Regions from separate parts of the Homo sapiens genome. Here regions 2 and 3 are each linked to region 1. The links come from fine-mapping of genetic effects on gene expression. A gene starts in region 1. Each other region holds a variant in brackets. All regions are shown on one strand. Distances are between the middles of the regions. Region 1 holds the start of CAMLG (calcium modulating ligand). Region 2 holds the start of LINC02900 (long intergenic non-protein coding RNA 2900). Region 3 overlaps DDX46 (DEAD-box helicase 46).

What was found.
Region 2: its variant is fine-mapped to the expression of CAMLG in monocytes (Kim-Hellmuth 2017, PIP 0.95).
Region 3: its variant is fine-mapped to the expression of CAMLG in monocytes (Kim-Hellmuth 2017, PIP 0.95).

The regions. Positions count from the first base shown.
Region 1 is chr5:134,734,846-134,743,028 of GRCh38, reverse strand. It overlaps CAMLG (calcium modulating ligand), which reads right to left and starts at 4,481. Exons shown (of 4, transcript NM_001745.4): 1 at 4,237-4,481; 2 at 1,506-1,966. The coding sequence starts at 4,408. RefSeq lists an enhancer at 4,844-4,893.
Region 2 is chr5:135,246,724-135,254,906 of GRCh38, reverse strand. The region is part of intron 3 of PITX1-AS1 (PITX1 antisense RNA 1); the gene reads right to left. LINC02900 (long intergenic non-protein coding RNA 2900) reads left to right here and starts at 6,730. Exons shown (of 4, transcript NR_037895.1): 1 at 6,730-6,781; 2 at 7,095-7,294. RefSeq lists an enhancer at 7,081-8,183. The variant G/A (reference allele first, on the strand shown) is at 4,386.
Region 3 is chr5:134,760,276-134,768,458 of GRCh38, reverse strand. It overlaps DDX46 (DEAD-box helicase 46), which reads right to left. Exons shown (of 23, transcript NM_001300860.2): 2 at 4,367-4,555; 3 at 1,399-1,542. Among named protein-coding and RNA genes, the nearest start is that of DDX46, 5.6 kb to the right of the region's middle. The variant C/AC (reference allele first, on the strand shown) is at 4,184.

The sequences.
Region 1 (8,183 bases):
CGGCGGCTCATGCCTGTAATCCCAGCACTTTGGGAGGCAGAGTTGGGTGGATCATGAGGTCAGGAGATGGAGACCATCCTGGCTAACACGGTGAAACCCCATCTCTACTAAAAATACAAAAAATTAGCCGTGCGTGTTGGCACATGCCTGTAGTCCCAGCTACTCGGGAGGCTAAGGCAGGAGAATCGCTTGAACCCAGGAGGTGGAGGTTGCAGTGAGCCAAGATCACATCACTGCACTCCAGCCTGGCGAAAGAAACTCCACCTCAAAAAAAAAAAGATTTACAAAAACTGTTTTGCTTAATGATATAAACTTTAATTATCTGGATATTTATGTGCCTGGTACATATACTTAAAATGTCTACTGAATGGAAAAACCTCAGAGCAAGACACTGAACTATGAGCTATGCTTTTCTGCATTCTTTAATATACTATAAAACAAAATGACTACATCATGGTACAACCAAAATGGACTCATTATGATATATTAGGAAATGCTGAAATGTCTTCTGAACCATAGGAAGATTACCTCATATTCAGGACCAGAGGAACTGCATTTTACTATTTCAAATTATTTGAAAATTGATAATATACAGTATATATATGTAAAGCACTTAACCCTTTGGTTAAGGACTGAAACTGCCAGGGTTTAATCCTAGCACCGCTTAGTAGCTGTGTGACCTTGGGCAAATGGTTTAACCTCTCTGAGTCTTCATTTCCCAATGGATTCACATAATACCAAGTTCATAAGAATGAGGATTAGATGAATTAATGTATGCAAAACAATGAGAAAGGTCCGTAGAATGAAAAATGGGTTTTAGTACAGTCATCCCTCAGTATCAGCAGAGGACTGGTACCAGGTTCCTCCTGATACCAAAATCCATAGATGCTCAAGTCCCTTATGTAAAACGGCACAGTAAATATAACCTACTCACTTCCTCCCATATACTTTAAATCATTTCTAGATTTTTTATGCCTAATGCAATGTAAATAGTTGTTATACTGTTTTTATTTGTATTATTTACTATTTGTTATTGTTGTATTGTTATTTTTCCCCCAAATATATACACATACATATATTTTTGAGACGGGGTCTCACTCTGTCACCCAGGCTGGAGTGCAGTGCCGTTATCCTGGCTCACTGCAACCTCCACCTCCCGGGTTCAAGCGATTCTCCTGCCTCAGCCTCCCAAGTAACTGGGATTACAGGCGTGCACCACCACGCCCGGCTAAATCCAAATATTTTCAATCCACAATTGGTTGAATCCACATAGGGTGCAGAACCAACTGATATGGAGGGCCAACAGTAATTATTAGGCTCTGTATTTAACCAGAACACTTCATTCTATGAGATGAATAGCAAAGTTAATAATATATCTTCAAACAGCCACATGGATCTGGTAGATATTAATACTGGCAATGACTTCTATGATCAAAAGCACTCATAATTATTAACATTTTGCATTTTCCATTAAGTTAGTTAATAATTTACAGATCTTTTCTTACCAAGTATTTGCAAACAAAAGCTCTGACTCCAAGAGCAAGAAGAGCACATCCCACCAATCTAAATATTCGAAAAGAGTCAAATTCTTCTGTTGTATTTCCATCCTCTTGACTGGGTTTTTCACTAATCAGCTGTTTCCTTAGCTTCATTGCTTCTTCGAATCTGGAAAGGTACTGCTCTAGGCCATGGCGGGAACCCCTCTGGACCGAGTCCGCTGTCAGGTCCCCTCTGTTCCGCTGCCGGAGCTCAAGGTTGACATCACTACTGCACTCAGGTGGTTTAATGAACGAGTCCAATTTGTCTCCCAGTTGGGTCCCCTTTACCTCGGCCACACCACCCTGCTGGTCAGTTGTTCCTGTACTGACTGAATCACCCAGCACTACTCGCTTTGAAACGGAAGGAACGCTGAGGGAGTTCAGTTTATCACTGTCCTGCTGCTTTGATTTTGTTTGACTTTCTTCTTCTGAGAAAAGAAATGTAAAAGCCTTATGTATTTATTCCATACTGGCAAACACCTTACATGTTTATGTTTTAAAATATGCTGTTGCAGCTAGAACTCAGCAGCCTCTGCATCAAAATAAATAAATACCGATTCTGCATTAAAGAAAAGCTGGTTTCGGCCAGGTGCCGTGGCTCACGCCTGTAATCCCAACACTTTGGGAGGCTGAGGCGGGCGGATCATGAGGTCAAGAGATTGAGACCATCCTAGCCAACATGGTGAAACCCCGTCTCTACTAAAAATACAAAAATTAGCTGGGTGTGGTGGCGTGTGTCTGTAGTCCCAGCTGCCTATAGTCCCAGCTACTCTGGCTGAGGCAGGAGAATCACTTGAAACCCGGGGGGAGGAGGTTGCAGACACTGCGCCACTACACTCCATCTGCATCTGCCTGGCGACAGAGTGAGACTCCATCTCAAAACAAAAAAAAGAAAAAAGCTGGATTCTTCCTCTACACCCTCAAAATGTATCACCCAAAATGAATATTCTGCAGAGGAAATAACCCAAACTTTGTGGGTAGGAGATAAGATTAGTAGACAAACTGGGAAAGATATTCAGAGATGGAGCAAGCTGAAAAGACCAACTTTTTATGGATAATATATCCCAGATGTATGATTGCATTGCCTGCCTTAGCTTATTTGGTTAAAAATATAAAATCAGTAAAGCCTTTTAAAATCTATATTTTAAAATTAGATTTCTGAATCCAGTGCCCTATGAGCATAGGGTGTGGCATATCCCAAAGCTACTGTTTATGTAGTCAGGCAGCCATTAGTAGGCACTTCAGCAGTTTTAAGACACTACTCTGGGGTTTTGTTTTTGTTTTTGTTTTAAAAAAAAGGCCAGGCACAATGGCTCACACCTGTAATCCTGTAAGCCCAGCACTTTTGGAAGCCAAGGCTGGTGGATCACTTGAGCCCAGAAGTTCCAGACCAGCTTAGGAAACATAGTGAGACCCCCCCATCTCCACACACACAATTTTTTTTTAAATTAGCCAGGCATGGTGGTGTACACCTGTGGTCCTAGCTACTCCGGAGGCTGAGGTAGCAGGATTGCTTAAGCCCAGGAGTTTGAGGCTGCAGTAAGCTATGATCATGCCACTGCACTCCAGCCTGGCCTACAGAGGGAGACCCTGTCTCAAAAAATAAAACAACCTTTAAAGACATAAAATTTTCAAAGCAAAAGAACAAAATATAGAAAGTACCTCAGGTAAGATCATAAATAATGCTTTAAGAATAAATAGCCCGATAGAAAAATGTTTCTTCTATTGTTCTAGAAGAATTTGAAATGGTTTTCTTACCTCTCATTTGAACTGCCTAAAAGTTCAGAGCTATACACCTAAAGCCTTACAGAACAAAAGTCACAAAGATATAAGGAGCTTGCGACCAGTGACTAAAGGCCAATTACTAAAGGAAACACTGGAAACTTAGATAACACTAGGGCGCGCTAATTGCTCAATTATACTCACGTGAAATAAATTTTTTTTAAAGAAAATCATTGGACATGTGTTTGGGGGAGGAAGGAGGCGCTCTCCTTAGAAATGCAGCTCCAGACATCAATCACAACAATATCCCCTCATGAGGAGAGGAAACTCTCAGGTGTGCACTTCGCACTTGCTGGGTCTCTGAAGAATGCTCACTCTCACTTTTCCCACCTTTTCTAGCCGGCCCGTAGGTGACAGTGTTGACGGCACTGAACACAAACACTAGGATATGAGCACAAGAGTCCCTGATACACGTAGGATGAACTAGCGGGCAGTTCAGTAAAGACAGGCTGATGTGGGCGGACAGGAGTTACACAGCAAAAGGCAAAAGAAGGTAGACGCTAGAGAAGGCACTGTAAGGAAAAGCACTTGGAACCTTAAGAAGGAAAGCCATCTTCCTAAGGGGAGCAGTAGACATGACAGTCTGGGGATACAACGTGCGCCCTTCAAGAAAGGCGAGGAGTGGCTAAGGAAAAAAGGGGCTGTTCAACGTAACTGGGAAGAGGGAGTGAGAGCTCTGCAGGCAGGGTGGGGAAAATCTCACGGCGAGGCCCCGGGAAAATTGAGGGGAGCGACTAGGAACATCCTGGGGTTCAGGGATGAGAACTTGGGATATCACCGAAGGGGCGGGACAGAGAGGAAATCAAAGAGCAAGGCTTGGTCAAAAAGGTCAGAGGAGTGGAGGTGGGAGAGGGAAGAATGACCCTGAAGATTCAAGGTGATGGGCGGGAGACTGAGGGGAAATCGAGGCTCTTACCCGCGCCGCTCCCGGGCCTGTGAAAGCCCATGATCCGGTTGATGCGCTGTTCCGAGTTCATGAGCAGCTTTCTCCGACGCAGCTCCGCCCGACGCTGGGAAGCCGACAGACCTGAGCCCGCTGGGACCCCCGGCCTCTCCCCGCCGTCGGTAGCGACGGCCATCGACTCCATCCTCCCGTCCACAGTCTGGGAGGGGTGGCAGTGGCGGTGATGTTGGCCGCCGCTGCGAGGGCGATGACTAGAGGCCGGGCCGCAGGGCGCGCGTCCCCTTCCCACTATAGACCCGCCCCCGAGCGCGGTCCCGGAGCCTGTGAGCTAAGCACTCACGCACCGCCCCACGCGACCAAGCGCGAGGCTCTGGCCGCCATCTTGAGTGAGGGCAGCGCTGGACGCCCTCGTGCCTCCCCAACTCTTCTGGCCCTCACCCAACAGCCCCCTCTGCTGTTCACTCGGAGGTGAAGAAAACCAGCACCCAGGGCCGGGAGTGGTGGCTCACGCCTGTAATCCTAGCACTTTGGAAGGCCGAGGCGGGCGGATCACGAGGTCACGATTTCGAGAGTAGCCTGGCCAACATGGTGACCCCCTCCCCCCTCCCCCCACCCGTCTCTACTAAAAATACAAAAACTTAGCCGGGCGGGGTGGCGCGCGCCTGTAATCCCAGCTACTCGGGAGGCTGAGGCAGGAGAATCTCTTGGACCCAGGAGGCGGAGGTTGCAGTGAGCCGAGATCGCGCCACTGTTCTCCAGCCTGGGCTACAGAGCGAGACTCTGTCTCGAGAAAAAAAAAAAGAAAGAAAAGAAAACCGGGAGTGGGAAAGGGATGGCAGTAAGTAGGTCAGCCTAGATTTGGTGCCAGGAAGCAAAATGGAGGTTGCAGCGGCAGTCGCTTGTTTACAGACCCGCGGCCTCGCCTGTAGGCAATGGGAATACGTAACCCTGGGAGCCGCACTTAAAGGGAGCCTTACGCTGGGATTTGTTCTTGGTGCCTGTTCCTCATCCTTAACTTCTCTACGGCAAAGTATACGGCTGATGTGTTCCTAGGCTTTCCTCGCGTTTTGTGCGTTTTTATTCAAATTAGAATTTCCCATTGAAACCTTTCGTGCACATTCTATCTAAATTGCCAACACTCCCCATTCCCCTTCACCTTGTTTTTTCTCCTTGTCGTTCATGACCACCTCGCATGCTAAAGATGCTCCAGCCTGGGCGACAGAACGAGACTCCGTCTCAAAAAAAAAAAAGGAAAAGAAAAGAAAAAAACAAAAAGGCCGGGAGCGGTGGCTCACGTCTGTAATCCTAACTTTGGGAGGCCGAGGCAGGCGGATCACCTGAGGTCAGGAGTTCGAGACCAGCCTGGCCAATATGGCAAAACCCCGTCTCTACTAAAAATACAAAAATTAGCCTGACCTGGTGGCATGCACCTGTAATCCCAGCTACTTGGGAGGCTGAGGCAGGAGAATCGCTTGAACCTGGGAGGCAGAAATTGCAGTGAGCCGAGATCATGCCACTGCACTCCAGCCTGGGCGACAGAGGGAGACTCCGTCTCAAAAATACATATATAAAAGAAATAAATAAAATAAAATCAGAACAAATGACTGGGCGCGGTGGCTCATGCCTGTAATTCCAGCACTTTGTGAGGGCTGAGATGGGTGGATCACTTGAGGCCAGGAATTCGAGACCAGTCTGGCCAACGTGGCAAAACCCTGACTGTACTAAAAATACAAAAATTAGTCGGGCTTGGTGGCGTGTGCCTGTGGTCCCAGCTACTTGGGAGGCTAAGGTGGGAGGATCACCTGATCCTGGGGAGGTTGAAGCTGCAGTGAGCAATGATCGGGCCACTGCACTCCAGACTGGGTGACACAGTGAGACCCCATCTCAAAAAAGTTTTTTCAGAAAAAAATAATATATTTGCTATATTGTAATGGATCCAGTCTGGATTATAGTCATCATTAATAGCAATACAGTCATAAAATATAATTTTAAGTATGTTTTCAGGCAGGAAGGAGCCACAAAGGCAAAAGAGCTTAGGGCCCTTGAAAGTCATAATGCAGCCTTGGCATTCAGTAATGACTTACTAAGTGAATGATTAGATGAATGAAGGAATTGAATCCATCAACCCTTGCTAACAGGGAGCATGGCCAGTTCACACCTGAGGCTGAGGAGGGTTTTGAAGCAGCTTACTGGGTGGGCCCCCTGCAACTAAGCCTGCCACACAATCACCCTCAAAATAAGGAAGTGGGTGAAATACCACTTAGAAGATAATAAAATACTATATTTATATTAATACTGAAAAAGAAGTGAAAACAAAAGAAACTTCGGTTTGGATTCAACAACATAAGGAGCTCAAAGAATATACAGACTGAACTTTCACCCTTGATTGGATGAAAGTTAAATCCCAGGGACATCCACTAGTTAATAATTTTAAAGTATTAGAGGAAGTTCTTCTGCATATCTGCACAGACATAGATCTCTGAGCCCTAGACTTCCTTAAAACAATTTTACACACAACTGAAAATAATGGAAATAACTGTCAAATAGTAACAAATGTGCAGAATTTGATGAGGCACAGCCCTGATCAATCAAGACGGTTCCAGAAAGGGTTTGAGGAGCTAAATTAGAATTATAGTGTTATATTCAATGATATAAGCATCAAGCAAATTATTTCCAAGTAATATTTCATTCCTCCTTGAAACTGAGGAAGCCGTATAACTGAACTTGAACAGAATTATAAAAAATGTCTGGGCTGGCATGTGGGAGGTCCAGGCAGGAGGATCACTTGTGGCAAGGAGCTCAAGACTGACCTGGGCAACATAGTGAGACCCCCTTCTCTATTTAAAAACAAAGAAAAGAGATCGGGAGGCCAGGTGCGGTGGCTCACACCTTTAATCCCAGCACTTTGGGAGGCTGAGGTGGGTGGATCACTTGAGGTCAGGTGTTCGAAACCAACCTGGCCAACATGATGAAACCCATCTCCACTAAAAATACAAAAATTAGCCAGGCATGGTGGCACACACCTGTAATCCCAGCTACTCGGGAGGGTGAGGCAGGAGAATCACTCAAACCCAGGAGGCAGAGGTTGCAGTGAGCTGAGATTGCACCACTGCACTCTAGCCTGGGCGACAGAGTGAAACTCTGTCTCAGAAAAACAAAAAAAAAGAGTCCAGGCGCAGTGGCTCACACCTGTAATCCCAACGCTTTGGGAGGCCAAGGTGGGAGGACTGCTTAAGCTTAGGAGTTCAAGACCAGCCTGGGTAACATAGTGAGACCTCGTCTCTAGAAAAAAAAAAAAATCAAAAAATTTAAAAAAATTTAAAACGAGGCAGGAAGTTTGCTGCAATGAGCCATGATTGCATCACTCCACAACCACCTGGGTGATAGAGCTAGACCTTGTCTCAAAAGAAAAAGAGTAAAAGAATGAATTGATGAAACTGCTTAAAAGAAATTCAAGAACAATTTTCAGAAATTAGCAAATTACTTCCTCTAAATTCCATAATGAGTCAAATTTTTATTTTTATAAACACAGGGTCTTACTCTATGGCCTAGGCTGGAGTGCAGGGGCACAATCATAGCTCACTGCAGCCTACAGCCTTGAACTCCTGGGCTCAAGCAATCCTCCTGCTTCTGCCTCCTGAGTAGCTAAGGCTACAGGATTGAGCCCAGATAATTTTTTTTTTTTTTGAGATGGAGTCTTGCTCTGTCGCCCAGGCTGGAGTGCAGTGGCGCAATCTTGGCTCACTGCAAGCTCCGCCTCCTGGGTTCAAACCATTCTCCTGCCTCAGCCTCCCAAGTAGCTGAGACTACAGGCGCCGGCCACCACACCCGGCTAATTTTTTTTGTATTTTTAGTAGAGACGGGGTTTCACCGTGTTAGCCAGGATGGTCTCGATCTCCTGACCTCGTGATCCGCCCGCCTTGGCCTCCCAAAGTGCTGGGATTACAGGCATGAGCCAC
Region 2 (8,183 bases), 510 kb before region 1:
GATAAAGCAGGTGTTTTATTTATGCATTATTTCATTTCTCAAAATTCAATGAGCTAGATGCTATTTTCTAGATGAGGAAATTTATGTTCAGAGAAATTAAATGACTTGCCCAAGACCACACAGCTAATAACTGGAGACACTGGGACTTGAACCCAAGCAGTCTACATTAAGGTTCACACTCTTAATCTCCATGTCATGAAGACATGAGTGAGGTGTTAAATGTTTACTTAAGCCAGATTTTCTTTCACTGATGATTTGACATCTGAGTTCTACTAATTCATATAGCTCTCCACGCATTCAGGGCCAAAGCAACACTCACATATTTTTTTTTCCCTCACACATCTTGCACAAGGAATTGCTGCTTCCAGACTTAATCTCACCAGAATACCTTTACATCATTCTGCTGTCTTCAGGAGGTCCCTCTCCCTAGGTTACCTGCTCAAAATAACAGGCAGAGGGCCAAGATTGGATGGAGGTTGCAGAGTATGGCAGCAAAGCAATGCCCTAAAGCATACAAATGACTCCTCGGGCAAATGCAGACAGGTGTGACTGTCCAGAGCCGACCTCTGAGGGGCTGGAGCCTCGACAGGTGGCCTGACTCCAGGAGAAAGTGGGGAGCCTTGGTGCACTGAGGGTCATCAGCTAATGCATCTGAATGGCGAAGTCATGATTTCAAGGGGGCAGAAGGGAAAATTCATCTAACTCCACTTACAATTCAGCAGCATAATTTCCCAGACACATTGTCTAGAAATAGTGTGAGCTCTTTTTGAAGCAGCCTCTTGACTGTTCAAAGAAAGACTTCCCCCAGTCATTTTTAAAACTAGAGACATTGTCATTAGGGGAGAAGAGATCAAAAGCACCTTAATCTCCTCTATCAGCAGGCCAGCTACTTACCAAGTCTGAGAATGTTCCCCATGTGCTGCTTCCTGAGTCTGCCCGATAGTCCTGGGATTGGTATCTTGGATCGTAAAAAACAGAAATATGGTTTTACTTATACAGGTCTCTATCTCTGGGAGATGCGTGGAATGATAACACAATGGCCCAATCGACTCTCACCCCAACGGCTGCTCAAGGGTATTTCCAAATTCATAATTGGGATAGCTGCGGTTGCTTTCTTTAAAGAGGGATCAAAACATTGAAATCCATCCAAGACCACTGCTATGTAACCTGAGAGCGGGCAGCATTCATTAATGGGACACGCACAAGGCACTTGCCCTCATGTTCTTAAATAAGATTCCTTCAACAATCCTCAGGGAAAAGAGGGCCCTATGTCTCCAAGTGCTCAAGAAGTCTCCTCTTGTATGAGAGGCTTACAATGCAGGCATACCTATCCAAGGCTGTCTCTTATACCACCAGGCTGCTGCAAATTAAGGGTGCATTAATAGAAGTATGCTTCTAAGAACACAGGAGGTAAGGCCTTTCTTGCTTCTATGGGTAAGTCGTACAAGGGTATATGGCATTCGATGTCCTTGCACTTTAAAGTGAACTTTGCCCAATTAGAAGGATCAGCACATGTGAGATTAGAGTGCAGCATAAAGAAGGTGTGAGTGTGAGTTAGAGTGTTAATCAACAGCAACTGAAATAAAAACACAACTAGGCTAAATTTGTTCAGACCTTACAACCATTCCATATGTCTTGGTCCCAGACCTCCTGTCACTCTAAGCACCCAGTGCTGCTGTTGACTAATACCCTAACTCACACTCACACTTTCTTTATTCTGCACTGTCATCTCACATGTGTTGATCCTTCTTCAACTAAACTGTGAGCTCCTTGAGGGCAAGGATGGTGGGTGATTAGTACACAGTGCCTGGCTTGCTCGAGACATATTTGTTGAATGAACAAATGAACAGACAGACAGACAAACAAAACGACTGCCTTGGGAGAATGAGACCTCAGATACTCATATCCATGGGATGAAGGGATGACCCTGGCCTGATCATGGAAGGGGTAATGAAATTCTGGCCTGCCTCCCAGAGAGATGCCAGAAGCAGAAGGATTAGGCTCTTCCAGAGTCTATAAGCAAGCTGCATGCCCACTATAGAAGCAAAGTCATATATGCCAAATGTGATGAAGCCAAAGATAGGCGTCAATGGGGTCAGGAAGCTGTGGAACCTCAGGCAAACCCAGGCCAGGCTGTGCCTCTGCTTCCTTTTGCTGTAAATGACTAAAATCACAGATAGCTCACCAGGTTGCTGGATGTATTAGTCCGCTCTTACACTGTTATAAAGACACTCCCCAAGACTGGGTAATTTATTTAAAAAAAAAAAAAAAAGAGGTTTAATTAACTCACAGTTCTGCATGACTGGGGAGGCCTCCGGAAACTTACAATCATGGTGGAAGGGGAAGCAGGCATGTCTTACATGGCGGCAAGGGAGAGAAAGCATGTGAGAGTGCAGGGAAAACTACCATTTATAAAATCATCAGATCTCATGAGAATTCACTCACTATCATGAGAATGGTATGGGGGAAACTGCCCCCATAATCCAATCACTTCTCCCCTGAACATGTGGGGATTAGAGGTCCCTCCCTTAACACATGGGGATTACAATTCGAGATGAGATTTGGGTGGGGACACAGAATCAAACCATATCACTGGAAGAAGCAAATAAAATGCTATCAGTAAAGGGCACATTAGAAACTATAAAGGGCCCTAAATGGGCAAGGAGAGAAGACAGAGACAACAGAGGTAAGTGGCATTCTAGAAGGAGAGAACAGTCTGGCCTAGGACATGAGTGGAAGGTTGCAGGGAAGAGTTCTGGGACTGGCTGGGCCCAAGAGCACCCAAGCCCTTCACTTGAGGGATGGCCACCAGGATGTCCTGGATGACATGAACCCAACCAGGAGGCTGGTGCCAAAGGGAGGCTGACAGCAAAGCAGGAAAGAAGGGAGCATCTCTGCACAGGGCCTGGCGGCACCTGTGTCATAATCTGCACACCCAGGACAGTAGGATGAAGCTACTGTCGCTGTACTGTTACCAACACAACACTGATAACATACCCAGTCCCTCATAATTGTAGTCACCTCTTGCTTTGGCCGCCAGGAGACTCACAGTCTAATCTGCAGCCTACCCTCAACAAAAGCACTGGATCCATAATGGCCTTTCTTCCTCCCTCCCCCACCCTACCCCTGCACCTTTCCTATTAGACTGTAAGCTCCAGGAGGGCAGGAACCATGGCTGTTTTTCTGTTCACTGCTGTATCTACAGAGCCAAGCACATGGTAAATCCTCAGTATCCTTGCTGAGTGACAAACCACACTCCTATTTTCTTACCCTTCCTTTCCATTTGCCCCAGGTTCTTCTTATTTAATGTTTGTCCTGCCGCAACATCAGTGTTTCTGAAAGCCACCACAGATCCTCTTTTGTACAAGGTGGGATATAAATAAATACATAAGGAAAAGAAGACATAACACATAAAGAATCCACGGATGCACAATTCCCCCAAGTAGCTTATATAACAGCATGGCTCTGCTGACCTGCCCCCACCCTTTCCAGAGGCAAGCGAGGCAGGTGCAGTTGCAGAAGACGCTGTTTCTAAAGTTCAGTTTTGTCCTTAGGAGGCCTTCCTACCGGGCTGCTCCCAGAGATTGTGTTACCGCCAGGCCCAGCTGAAAGGTTGCCTAGCAACACTCAGCAGCCTCCGCGCCTCTAAATCCCTAATTTGTGTCTTACATGTACACAGCGCAGTGCTAGCATGACCCCAAGCAGTAGACACCTCTACAAATCCCCATCTAAAATAGGCCTGATCTGCCTGCATTAGCAGAGTCTGAGGCCCAGAACCTCCTCCTCTTCCTGGCCTGTGACTTCTAGCCTGGACACATGGGTGCCCATGGAGCATAAGCACAGAGGCAGGCGCTTTGAGTCTTGATGCTACTGTGTCTGGTTTGCCAGGAAGAAGCAAGGAAAAGGAGATGAGCTTGAGCTTAAAGCCCATATAGTTTAAGCCCATGAAGATCCCATCACCCTATGAAGAGCCGCCTCATTGGAGATTTTCTGCTCTCAGGCAAACACTTTATTTTTCATCCAGAAGGGTCAAAAACATGCCAACGTGTAAATAAATGAAGTGTTGTTTAAGATCATGTCTAAACAGTGTGCAAAAATAAATATCCTCACTCTAAAGCAAGACAGTATACAATATCCATCTGTGGAAGCAGGAATACGAGGAGTAATTTGGGGGAAAATTGCTTTATGAGACCCAAATTTCACCTGTGGCTTCTCAGAAACCATGATAAAGAGCAAAGAACCCCTAACTCATAGACTTCCAAACAAGGCCCAGGGATGTGGACATGGGTTCTCATCCCTTCTTTCTGGCTCAAAGAAACCTTGCAGCAACCTCCTTGCTGCCAGTGACTGTAGATTTTACTGCAGCCTCTCCAACTGCTTCTCCC[G/A]CTTAACTACCAGGCAATTGTGAGCCACAGCACTGTCCACAGGAAAACACTCCTCTTTTCCATTTCACTGCAAGAGGAGGCCATGCTTTCTTGTACTGGGCCTAAAACCAGTCAACTCCATCTGGCCTCTGTCTCTAAGCCAAAAGTTAAAACTTTAAGCATTACGTACATAAAAAAAACAAAAGAACAATTTCAGTTCTTGTGTTAAATTACATTTTTGATAGTGAAATGAAAAACAGACGAGGAGAAGGGGTGAAATCAAGACACTGTGGAGCTGTGATGCTCAGTACAGAAGCCACTAGTCCCGTAGGCCTATCTAAGTTAAAATTAAAATTAAAATTAAATAGAAGTAAAAAATCTAGTCCTTCAGCTGCACGAGCCAGAGCGGGTATTTCAAAAGCTCAATAGACACACAGGACTAGGAGCCACTGTGTTGCACAGCTCAGATCTGAAGAACATTTCCATCACCACGGAAGGTTCTGATGGATAGCACTGCCCTGGATGAGCCCCCGAGTGGACCATGGGCACAGAGGTCCATCCCCAACATGGCGGTGCCTATCAAGAAGCCCTGATCATCACTTCAGAGCTGGGTCCTGAGTCTTCAGTCTCAGAAAAACCTCTACAGCCAAGGCCCAAACACTTCTGGGAATTTGCCCAGGATCCCCAGTGCAATGTCTCACCCAGACTTATCCTCTTATCTCAACAAAAGTTCCCTTGTGACTCATCTCCCAAGGCCACACTGTCACACTGCTCCAGGGGTGTAGCGAAAATGGTGCCCCACTGCCCCACCACCACCAAGGATACGTCCACCCAGGACCCATGAGCATGAACTTATTTGGAAAAATAAGTCTTTGCAGATATAATTAAGTTAAAGATCTCAGGATGAAGACCAGGCTGACTCAACCAGGTTGTTCCTAAACCTGATGACAAGAGCCTTTATAAGAAGAAGAGATGTCACAGAGCAGGAGGCCACATGAAGACAGAGGCAGAAACTAGAGTTACATAGTCACAAGCCACAGCATGCCAAGGACTGCCAGCAGCCTCCAGAAGCCACGAGCGAGAAGCAGGACAGATCACCCCGCACATCCTCCCGAAGGAGTCAACCCTGCCAACACCTGGGTTTTGAACTTCTGGCCTCCAGAACTCTGAGAGAATAAATTTCTGTTGTTTTAAGCCACTTGGTGTGTGGCAATTTGTTGCAGCAGGGCTAGGAAACTAATATAAGGGGTTAATGGCAAATTATGACTGAATGGGTTTGCTCTCCCAGGAGAGATGCATTCAGCATGGATGCCTGGCCTGTGACTTCCAGCCTGGACCCATGGGTCCCCACTGAGCATGAGCGCTGAGGCAGGCAAGCAGACGGAGCCTCGGGCCCCAGGGCCACCATTTGATCTGCACGTGCCAGGAGGAAGTACCTGATGGCAGTGGCAGAGTGCAGGATGTGGGAGCAGTGAGGCCTTTGCGGCACTCCTCAAAAGATGCTACAGAGATGGCTCTGGTGCCCCCCACCCAGTCTCTCCTGACCTTTCTCCCCTTGTGGCTCCCTCCTCCACACCATCCTGGGCCACTGTGCTCTGCCCTTTCTCGCTTCTCCTCTCCTGCTGATCTCATTCCTACTCTCATCCCAAGGCTCATCTCAAAACCCACCTCCTCCAGGAAGCCTCCTCGGACCACCCCATCCCAGCATGACAGCTGCATGCCACGGCAGAAGGAGCCCTGAGTTCCAGGCTTGGCCTAGCCATGCCCTCCCTATGAGACTCCCATCAATCTCTTCATTTCTTTCTAGGCCTCAGTATCCCCATCTGCAGCATGAGGGGTGAGGCTAGACCAGCTCTAGGATTTCCAGCTGTCACATAACACGCTCACCAATTTGCACCAGTATTCACCTTTTTTTTTGCCTGGCATGCAAGAGATGTCAAATAATAGCAATAAACATTATCTATTTATTTATTTTTTGAGACAAAGTCTGCTCTGTCACCCAGGCTAGAGTACACTGGCATGATCTCGGCTCACTGCAACCTCTGCCTCCCGGGTACCAGCGATTCTCGTGCCCAGCCTCTAGAGTAGCTGAGATTACAGGCGTGCACCACCACGCCTGGCTAATTTTTCTATTTTTAATAGAGATGGGGTTTTGCTATGTTGGCCAGGCTGGTCTTGAACTCCTGACCTCAGGTGATCCTCCCACCTCGGCCTCCCAAAGTGCTGGTATTACAGGTGTGAGCCACCACATCTGACCTAATAATATTAATTATGAAATAAAAACTAGCAATTATGAAGCTGATCATAATGCTAAATGCTTTATGTGTGTTATCACAATAGCATTTTTTTGGATGGATAGATGCATCGGAGGAGGGGAGAGGAGAGGAAAGTGGGAGGAGAGGCTGCACTCTAAACAGGTCTCAGACTCATGAAGGCAGAACCCTTGTTCCCCTGGCTGGTCCCAGCACTGAGCTTAACATGCCACAAGGGGCTCAACACATATGGGGAGGGACACCAAAGAACTTACAGAAAGGAGACCAGATTTAGGAAGTATCTTACTTTTGAACAGGGTCTGCCCTTTCTCAATGACCTATCCACCCCCACCTGCTCCTTTGAACTTCAGAAGCTTCTGAAAGGAATCAGAGCTTCAAAGTAAGGGACTGCCAACCATAACAGGATCGCTGCACAGATACTGACCAAGTTGGGTGCATCTCTGATTTTTTTCTCCAGCCCTCTTGCCTGAGCAATCTGACGCAGAGGCACATGAGGAATCAGCACGGAACCATCGACCCACAGGGTTAATCCCAATGTCAATACCTGCTAGATGTCAGGGATCCCCTGGGCTGCTGGCGAGCCATTTGAAATGACCCATCTCCTGCCACCTTGGCCTGCTCCTCTGGGCCACCTCTCTCCACCTGCACTTGCTTACCGTGAGTAACCTGACCCCAGTGGGCCCAACCCAGGTGTGTTAGTCCTGACAGGGCCAAGAGGCCAGGACAGCTGCTGCCTGGCCTCGTTCTCAGTACCCTGTGGAGAAGGGGCGGCTCACTGGCATTACCCCATCATTCCGGCACTAGGACACACGGCTGGCTTCCCTTGGGGCGGAACTGCTGGTTCCATGGGCACAAGGCAAACCCTGGGAGGTCCTAGCCGTTCCTAGCGCATCCGCTAAACGTAAGGCATTTGCTCTCCTTCTCCCCCACGCCCCCAGGGAAGACGGCAAGGCCACCGGTGCACTTCGCAGTGCCAGGAGAAAGGCGCCTCATGCTATTAGCTCAAATAAGGAAAATCATGCCGGGAAGATTGAATTTTCTGCAGACTTGTTTAACCTGGTGATTTCTGAGCACTTGGCGCTGGCAGCCACGGGGGAGTGGGCTGCCAGCCGGCACTTTATCAGCCACTTCTCAGGACTATTCCTAAGCTTATTAAATCAGCATGAGTCACTCCCTTGCCTTCCTCACAAGCATGAATCACGAATCATCAAAACCCAAGCAAAATGCATGACTCAATAGTTTCTTCGGGGCCTAAAGGGGCTAGCGAGCTGGCGGTAGGGTGTTGTCAACCCGAGACCTCCCCCCACCAACAAGCAGTACTTTCCAGGGAAGGCAAGGGGGCTGCCACAGGGCAAAAAGAAGAGCTCAGAGGAACTTTCAAATACCTTGCATGGGCTCAGAAACACGCAGACCTGGGCTCAACCACACACTCGCGCAGTTCTGCTGTATGCCAGGCACCTTGACAAACACACTAGAGGAGCCAGCAGAGAGCAGGACTAGCCATTCTCTGCCCCCGCGTTGCTTACAGTCTAGAGGGAAGTGTTTG
Region 3 (8,183 bases), 25 kb before region 1:
TTTCATAAAAGGATACTAGATATCCCTAGAGCAATTTAAAAATTTTTCTGGCCAGGCACGGTGGCTCACGCCTTTAATCCCAGCACTTTGGGAGGCCGAGGCGGGTGGATCACGAGATCAGGAGATCGAGACCATTCTGGCTAACACGGTGAAACCCCATCTCTACTAAAAAATACAAAAAATTAGCTGGGCATGTTGGCACACACCTGCAGTCCCAGCTACTCGGGAGGCTGAGGCAAGAGAATTACTTGAACCCGGGAGGCGAAGGTTGCAGTGAGCCGAGATTGCACCACTGCATTCCAGCCAGGGCAACAGAACGAGACTTTGGCTGTTAAAAAAAAAAAAAAAATCTTCACTTATTACATCATCACCTCTGTCATCTATCAAATTACCATGTGTATGGATGCCTTTCTGGGCTCTTTACATGGTTCACTAATCTGTCTGTCCACTGCTAAACAAATTGCACATTGTCTTAATTTCTGTTAACTTTTTTTTGTTTTTTTTTTTTGAGAAGGAGTTTCACTCTTGTTGCCCAGGCTGGAGTGCAACGGCATGATCTCACCTCACCGCAACCTCTGCCTCCTGGGTTCAAGCGATTCTCCGGCCTCAGCCTCCAGAGTAGCTGGGATTACAGGCATACGCCACCACGCCCAGCTAATTTTGTATTTTTAGTAGAGACGGGGTTTATCCACAATGGTCAGGCTGGTCGCCAACTCCCAACCTCAGGTGATCCGCCCACCTTGGCCTCCCAAAGTGCAAGGATTACAGGCGTCAGCCACCGCGCCTGGCCTAATTTCTTAACTTTTAAGACAAGTCTTGGCTGGGCGCGGTGGCTCAGGCCTGTAATCCCAGCACTTTGGGAAGCCGAGGTGGGCAGATCACTTGAGGTCAGGAGTTCGAGACCAGCCTGGCAAACATGCCAAAACCCCATCTCCACTAAAAACATAAAAATTAGCTGGGATATTATGTCTGCCTCTTCATATAATCCCAGGACTTTTGGAGGCCTAGGTGAGAGGATTGCTTGAGTCTACAAGTTTAAGGTTAGTGAGCTATGTTCTTGCCACTTCACTCCAGCCTGGGCAACAGAGTGAGACCCTGCCTGAAAAGAAAATGACAGAGTTTCTACAAAGATGTCTATAAAATACATTTCTGATTGACAGTTATGTATTAAGTAAGAATACAATGTATTGAATGTTAAAACTGACAGAATCTATTATTTTCCAGTTGAATTATAAACATTATAGCCAATTAAAATAAAACACTGCCAACAGTTCATGGTAGGAGCCAAATGCAGTTAATTCTCTATAAATACAAACTTACAGGGAAAAAAAAAAAAGGCGCAGAGAAGGGAAGCAGTCCCCAGTCTGCACTATAGATGCAGCCCAATGATAACATTACCTATTCTCAGTTTTCTTGCTTTTATTTCCAGGACTGGAGGATCGGGATCGCCGGCCCCGGCTTCTACTCCTTGAGCGTCTCCTGTCTCTACTTCGAGATCTTCTTCGCTCTCGGCTTCTGTCTCTCTCTCTACTTCTGGAACGTCTGAAAGGGGGACACTTTTCATTTATTCTATGACCAAATGGAGCTACTATTTCAGATCAGGGGATTCTGTCCCACATTGAAAGAATCTTAATCACTACCATTATTAAAGGTGGAGGTCTCAATGAAGTAAAGCCAAGTCTTATAAGTGCTCAACGAAAAAAATGAGAATACTAATTTATTTCTTTCATTTTTTTAAAGACAAAGTCTCACACCTGTCACCCAGGCTGGAGTGCAGTGGCACAATTGCAGCTCACTGCAACCTCTGCCTTCTGGGTTCAAGTGATTCTCCTGCCTCAGCCTCCCCAGCAGCTGGGATTACAGATGTGCATCACCATGCCCGGCTAATTTTTTTTTTTTTTTTGGAGACAGAGTTTTGCTCTTGTTGCCCAGGCTGGAGTGCAATGGCGCAATCTCAGCTCACCACAACCTCCATCTCCTGGGTTAAAGCGATTCTCTTGCCTCAGCCTCCTGAGTAGCTGGGATTACAGGCATGCACCACCATGCCCAGCCAATTTTGTATTTTTACAGATGGGGTTTCTCCATGTTGGTCAGGCTGGTCTCGAACTCCCAACCGCAGGTGATCTGCCTGCCTCAGCCTCCCAAAGTGCTGGGATTACAGGCGTGAGCCACCATGCCAGGCCAGAGAATACTAATTTCATAAAGATGTTTGTGAAAAAACCATAATAAGTCTGTAATTAACATCGATTGAAAATCGATGGTCTAAGATAGAATATCTAGTTTCAGATAGCCTAAACCTAAGTATAAGGATGGGCATAATGGGTCTACTAAAAGATCACTAATCTGAAGATGAAGAGGCAAGAATTTCTATCCTGCTACTCCTGGTAACTAATGACATGATGAAGGTCAGATCTCCAACTTTCTGGGTCTCAGTTTCATCATCTATAAAATATGGAGACTTCACTAGACATCTTTAAAATCCCTCTTGCTCTAAAATCTTGTGATTCTACTTTCACACCCAAAAGTCAAAGACCAAATGTTAAATAACCATTTTCACTTAAGTACTTGAATTAATTGTGTGAAATTGTTCCTAGGACCACAAAATGTGAAAATGCTATCCACATTGTCACGGGTGAATATTTTCCCTGAATCCTACGTAACAACAATGTACTCCAATGTCTGAAAAGGATAAAGTTAAATTCTTTCTATGATCCACTCACAACACAATCTTGTCTTCCTTTCCTATTTTAATGAGAAACTGGGCAAGGTATGGTATCTCATACCTGTAGTCCCAACCCTTTGGGAGGCCACTAGCAACACAGTTAAGACCCCCATCTCTATGAAAAGCTTTTTTTAATTGGCTGGGTGTGGTGTGCACAGAAGATTATTTTCTTTTTTTCTGTTTTGAGATGGAGTCCTGATCTGTCGCCCAGGCTGGAGTACAGTGGCACCATGTCGGCTCACTACAACCTCCACCTCCCAGGTTCAAGCAAGTCTCCTGCCTCAGCTTCCCGAGCAGCTGGGTTTACAGGCATGCACCACCACACCTGGCTAATTTTTTTTTTTTTTTTTTTTTTAGTAGAGACGGGGTTTCACCATGTTGGCCAGGCTGGTCTCAAACTCCTGACCTCGTGATTCACCCACCTTGGCCTCCCAAAGTGCTGGGATTACAGGCATGAGCCACCATACCTGGCCAACTTTGTCACTATTAAAAATACAAAAATTATCCAGGCTTTGTGGAGCATGCCTGTAATCCCAGTTACTCAAGAGGCTGAGGCATGAGAATCACTTGAACCCGGGAGGCAGAGGTTCCAGTGAGCCTAGATCGTGCCACTGCACTCCAGCCTGGGTGACAGAGTGAGACTCTGTCTCAAAAAAAAAATAAATTAAAAAAAAAAAAAAGATTAAGGCGCTCTTTAGTTTAAATCTATGACAGCTCATTAAAATAGTTTAAGAGGCTTGGAGAGGGTCTGCTTTGTTTCCTTTTTCTGCCTGCTTTAGAGGCTGCTCTAAACACACTGTTTAGCAAAATGAAGAAAGAAAGAGAAAGAGAGAAAGAGTGAGGGAGGAAGGGAGAGAGAGTGGAAGGGAAGGAGATAGGGAGGAAGGAAGAGAGAGATGGAGGAAGGGAGGGAGGGAAGGAGGGAGAGAGGAAGGAAATTTTACAAATTTCAACAAGGGTGGCAAAAAAAAAAGGAAAGAAAATTAACACCTTGGTCAGCTCTCCTGGAGCAGAATTGGAATAGAACCCTCTTGAATATAACTTATTACTTTACTTTTTACTTCATTTTGTATGTCCCTCAGAGGGCTTCAAGGGATGTCTTTGGGTTACAGGAAATACAGCCTAAAGTTTCCAAACTAAAAACACTGTTTGATGGTCGGACACGGTGGCTCACACATGTAATCCCAGCACTTTGGGAGGCCAAGGTGGGAGGATCACATGAGGCCAGGAGATCGAGAGCAGCCTGGCCAACATGGCAAAACACCGTCTCTTTTAAAGACACAAAAATTAGACAGGTGTGGTGGTGCACATCTGAAATCCCAGCTACTTGGCAGGCTTAGGCATGAGAATCGCTTGAACCCAGGAGGTGGAGGTTGCAGTGAGCAGAGATGATACCACTGCACTCCAGTCTGAGCAACAGAGTGAGGCTCTGTCTCAAAAAAGATTAAAAAAAAAAAAAAA[C/AC]ACTGTTTGATAGAGTCTTTGTAGGCACATCCTTCTGGGTCTAATCAAACAAGTAGGGGATAAAGAAAAGGGCCTGCAATTGGGCCACCAAACTCCAGTTGAAAACATACTTTTCAAGAAGCCTGCTATAGCCGAGAAGGCCCAATTTATCACTCGTCTTTTGGAAATTAATTAATGTCTTACCTCAGACGCTTCCTGTCCCTTGACCGAGATCTTCTTTTATCCCTGCTACGAGACCTCTCTCTCCTCCTATCTCTATCTCTACTTCTAGACCGTCTGTCATCTCCACGTTTACTTCTTTTGTCTGAGGGTGAGCGACTTCTAGACCGACTTCCAGAGCGACCCCGGGATGCCGATCGTTTTCGATAGTGGCTAGAACAATAAGTCAAAGATTAAGTTCAGCAAACACCATTAGCTTCTATTACATTTTATTACATTTTTTCTAAAAATAATTTCAGCAGACAAATTTAACACTCAAAGAACTTTTTATGAATTTTTCTAAAATTAGGAGGGAAAAAATGAACCCTTCTGCTTCAGCACAGACACATGTAGAGGTGGAAAATCTGTCTTGAAAGAGAGGCAAGGACAGTGAACAAAACAGACCAAGCTCCTGCCTTTGAGCTCCAGGCAGCTTACACTCCGGTAAAGGAAAAGACGGCAGACAAGTGAAGAAACAAACACTGTATATAGTATGTTTATATACAATATAAATATGACATTTGTTACAGAGGCTTGGAGGAAATAAAGGAGCCATGTAGATATACAGGGAATTTTCCACGCAAAAGGCACAAGTGCAAAGTCCCTAAAGAGGAAGCTTGACTGGTGAGTTTAAGGAACAGCAAGGATGCCAGTTGTGGCTAGTGTTGAAAGAGTGACACAGCGTGCCATAAGACGAGGTCAGAAAAACAGCAGGGAAGCCAAACCTGGAAGGCCTTACTGGCCATTATATAAGGACTCTGTCTTTTACACCAAGATGAAAATCTACTGGAAGACTTTAAGCAGAGGAGTGACACAACCTCATTAATGTTTTTATTTTTATTTTTAGAAACAGGCCTCACTCTATTATCCAGGATAGAGTGCAGTGATGTGCTCACAGTTCACTGCAACTTCAACTCTCTGAGGCTCAAGCAATCCTCCCACTTCAGCCTCCCAAGAAGCCGGAACTTCAGGCATGCGTCACCACACTTAGCTAATTATTATTATTATTTTTTTTTTTTGAGAAAGAGTCTGGCTCTGTTGCCTAGGCTGGAGTGCAGTGGCACAATCTCAGCTCACTGCAAGCTCCACCTCCCGGGTTCACACCATTCTCCTGCCTCAGCCTCCCGAGTAGCTAGGACTATAGGCGTCCGCCATTACGCCAGGCTAAATTTTTTTTGCATTTTTAGAAGAGATGGGGTTTCACCATGTTAGCCAGGATGGTCTCGATCTCCTGACCTCGTGATCCACCTGCCTCAGCCTCCCAAAGTGCTGGGATTACAGGCTTGGGCCACTGCGCCCGGCCACTCAGCTAATTATTTTTATTTTATTTTATTTATTTTTTTTGAGACAGAGTCGCACTCTTGTTGCCCAGGCTGGAATGCAATAGCACCATCTCAGCTCACTGCAACCTCTGCCTCCCAGGTTCAAGCAATCCTCCTACCTCAGCCTCCCAAGCAGCTGGGATTACAGGCCTATACTACCACGCCCAGCCAGTTTCGTATCTTTAGTAGATGAGGCAGTTTCACCACATTGGTCAGGCTGGTCTGGAACTCCTGACCTCAGGTGATCTACCTGCCTCAGCCTCCCAAAGTGCTGGGATGGATTACAGGCATGAGCCACCGCATGCAGCCTTTTTATCATTTTTTTAAATTTCTTTTTTGAGACAAGGTCTCACTCTGTCACCCAGGCTGGAATGCAGCAGCTCAATTGCTACTCACTGTAACCTCAACCTACTGGGCCCCAGCAATCCTTCCACCTCAATCTCCAGAGTAGCTGAGACCAAAGGCACACACCACCGCGCCCACCAATTTTTTTTTTTTTTTTTTTTGGGTAGAGATGGTGTCTCACTATGTTGCTCAGGATTGTCTTAACCTCCCGGCCTCAAGCATCTTCCCACCTCAGCCTCCCAAGTAGCTGGGACCAAAAGCATAAAAGCGTGTGCCACTATGCCCACCTATTTATTTCTTTTTATTTTTCATTTTTGTAGAGATGGAGTCTTGCTATGTTGCTCAGGATGGTCTCAAACTCCTGGGCTCAAGCAATCCTTCCACTTAATGTAATCCCAAAATGCTGGGATTACAGGTGTGAGCCACTGCACCTGGCCTAATGTTTTTAAAGTATTATTCTGGTTGCTGAGAGAACAAACCAAACAAAGGGAGGCAAGGACAAAAGGAGAAAGAATAGGCAGGATTAGCAAAGACCAGCACTATAGCAATCATCCAGGCATGAGATAGTGGTGGCATAGATCAAAATGGAAGGTGGAAAGATTTTGAGAAATATCAAAATCTGGATATCTTGAAGCTAGCACCGATGGGATTTAATGATGAACTAAATGTCAAGTGTGACAGCAAGAGAGAAATCACTCAGTTGCCATTTACCAAGATGGGAAGGCTGAGGGAGAAATCCAGGGAGAAGGTGGATCAGAATATTAGGTATCCAAGTGGAGATATATAGTATATAGTTGAAATATTAGCCTGTAGTTCAAGGAAGAGGTTTCTCTAGAAATATAAACTGGACAGCTATTAGTGTACAAAGGCTATTTAAAGCTATAAACCTAAATAAGATCACTAGGAGATGAATGCACCTGATTATCTCTCAAGCACCTCAAGTTCAATCTGTAGAAACCCAAACTTGTTACCCTTCCCTCCCCAAACGATTAATCGTACCAACTTCCGGTCACTAGGCTCAAAACATTAGTCATCATCAATATTTTTCTCTTGCTCTCATTCGATACAATAAATAAAACACCAATTGGCTGGGCACAGCGGCTCATGCCTGTAATCCCAGCATTTTGGCAGGCCAAGGTGGGCAGAGAGCTTGACCTCAGGAGTTGAGACCAGCCTGGGCAACATGGTGAAACCCTGTCTCTACAAAAAATACAAAAATTAGCAAAGCGTGGTGGCACACGCTTGCAGTCCCAGCTATTCGGGAGGCTGAGGTGGGAGGATCTCTTGAACCTGGGAAGCATAGGTTGCAGTGAGCCAAGATTGTTTCAATGCACTCCAGCCTGGGAGACAGAGCAAGTCCCTGTCTCAAAAACAAAAAAACAGGCCGGGTGCGGTGGCTCACGCCTGTAATCCCAGAACTTTGGGAGGCCGAGGCGGGTGGATCACAAGGTCAGGAGATCGAGACCACCCTGGCTAACACGGTGAAACCCCGTCTCTACTAAAAAATACAAAAATTAGCCTGACGCGGTGGCAGGCGCCTGTAGTTCCAGCTACTCGGGAGGCTGAGGCAGGAGAATGGCGTGAACCCTGGAGGCGGAGCTTGCAGTGAGCCGAGATCCCACCACTGCACTCCAGCCTGGCGAAAGAGCGAGACTCTGTCTCAAAAACAAAAACAAAAACAAAAAAACAACCAAGTAATACCAATTTCACCTCTGTAATTCCCTTCACATTATATCACCTCCACAGAGTTCCAACCGTCACTATTCTATATCAGACATATCTACCTAGGAGATTCTTAAAGACTGTAGTCTTCCTGTTTCTATTACTTTTCCATTAAATCTTACTCATTGCTGCTAAGGAGAATTCTGATTCTATTACACACTTTTTACTCAAAATCTTCAAAGGTTCACAAACAAATTCTGATCTTCAAAATCTACAATCCACCCGCTTTCTGGGCCCAAGTCCTATTCAGGACCTACCTCCTACTACTTCTCAAAAAAGATAAAATCCCTTCATGAAACCTACATATGCAGAAAAATTGGGCTTTTTAGCTATTTCTCTAACACCTTGCGCCTTCCCACCTCTAAGCCTTTCATGATTCCCTGAACAAACCTAGAGCACAGGCCATGCACACC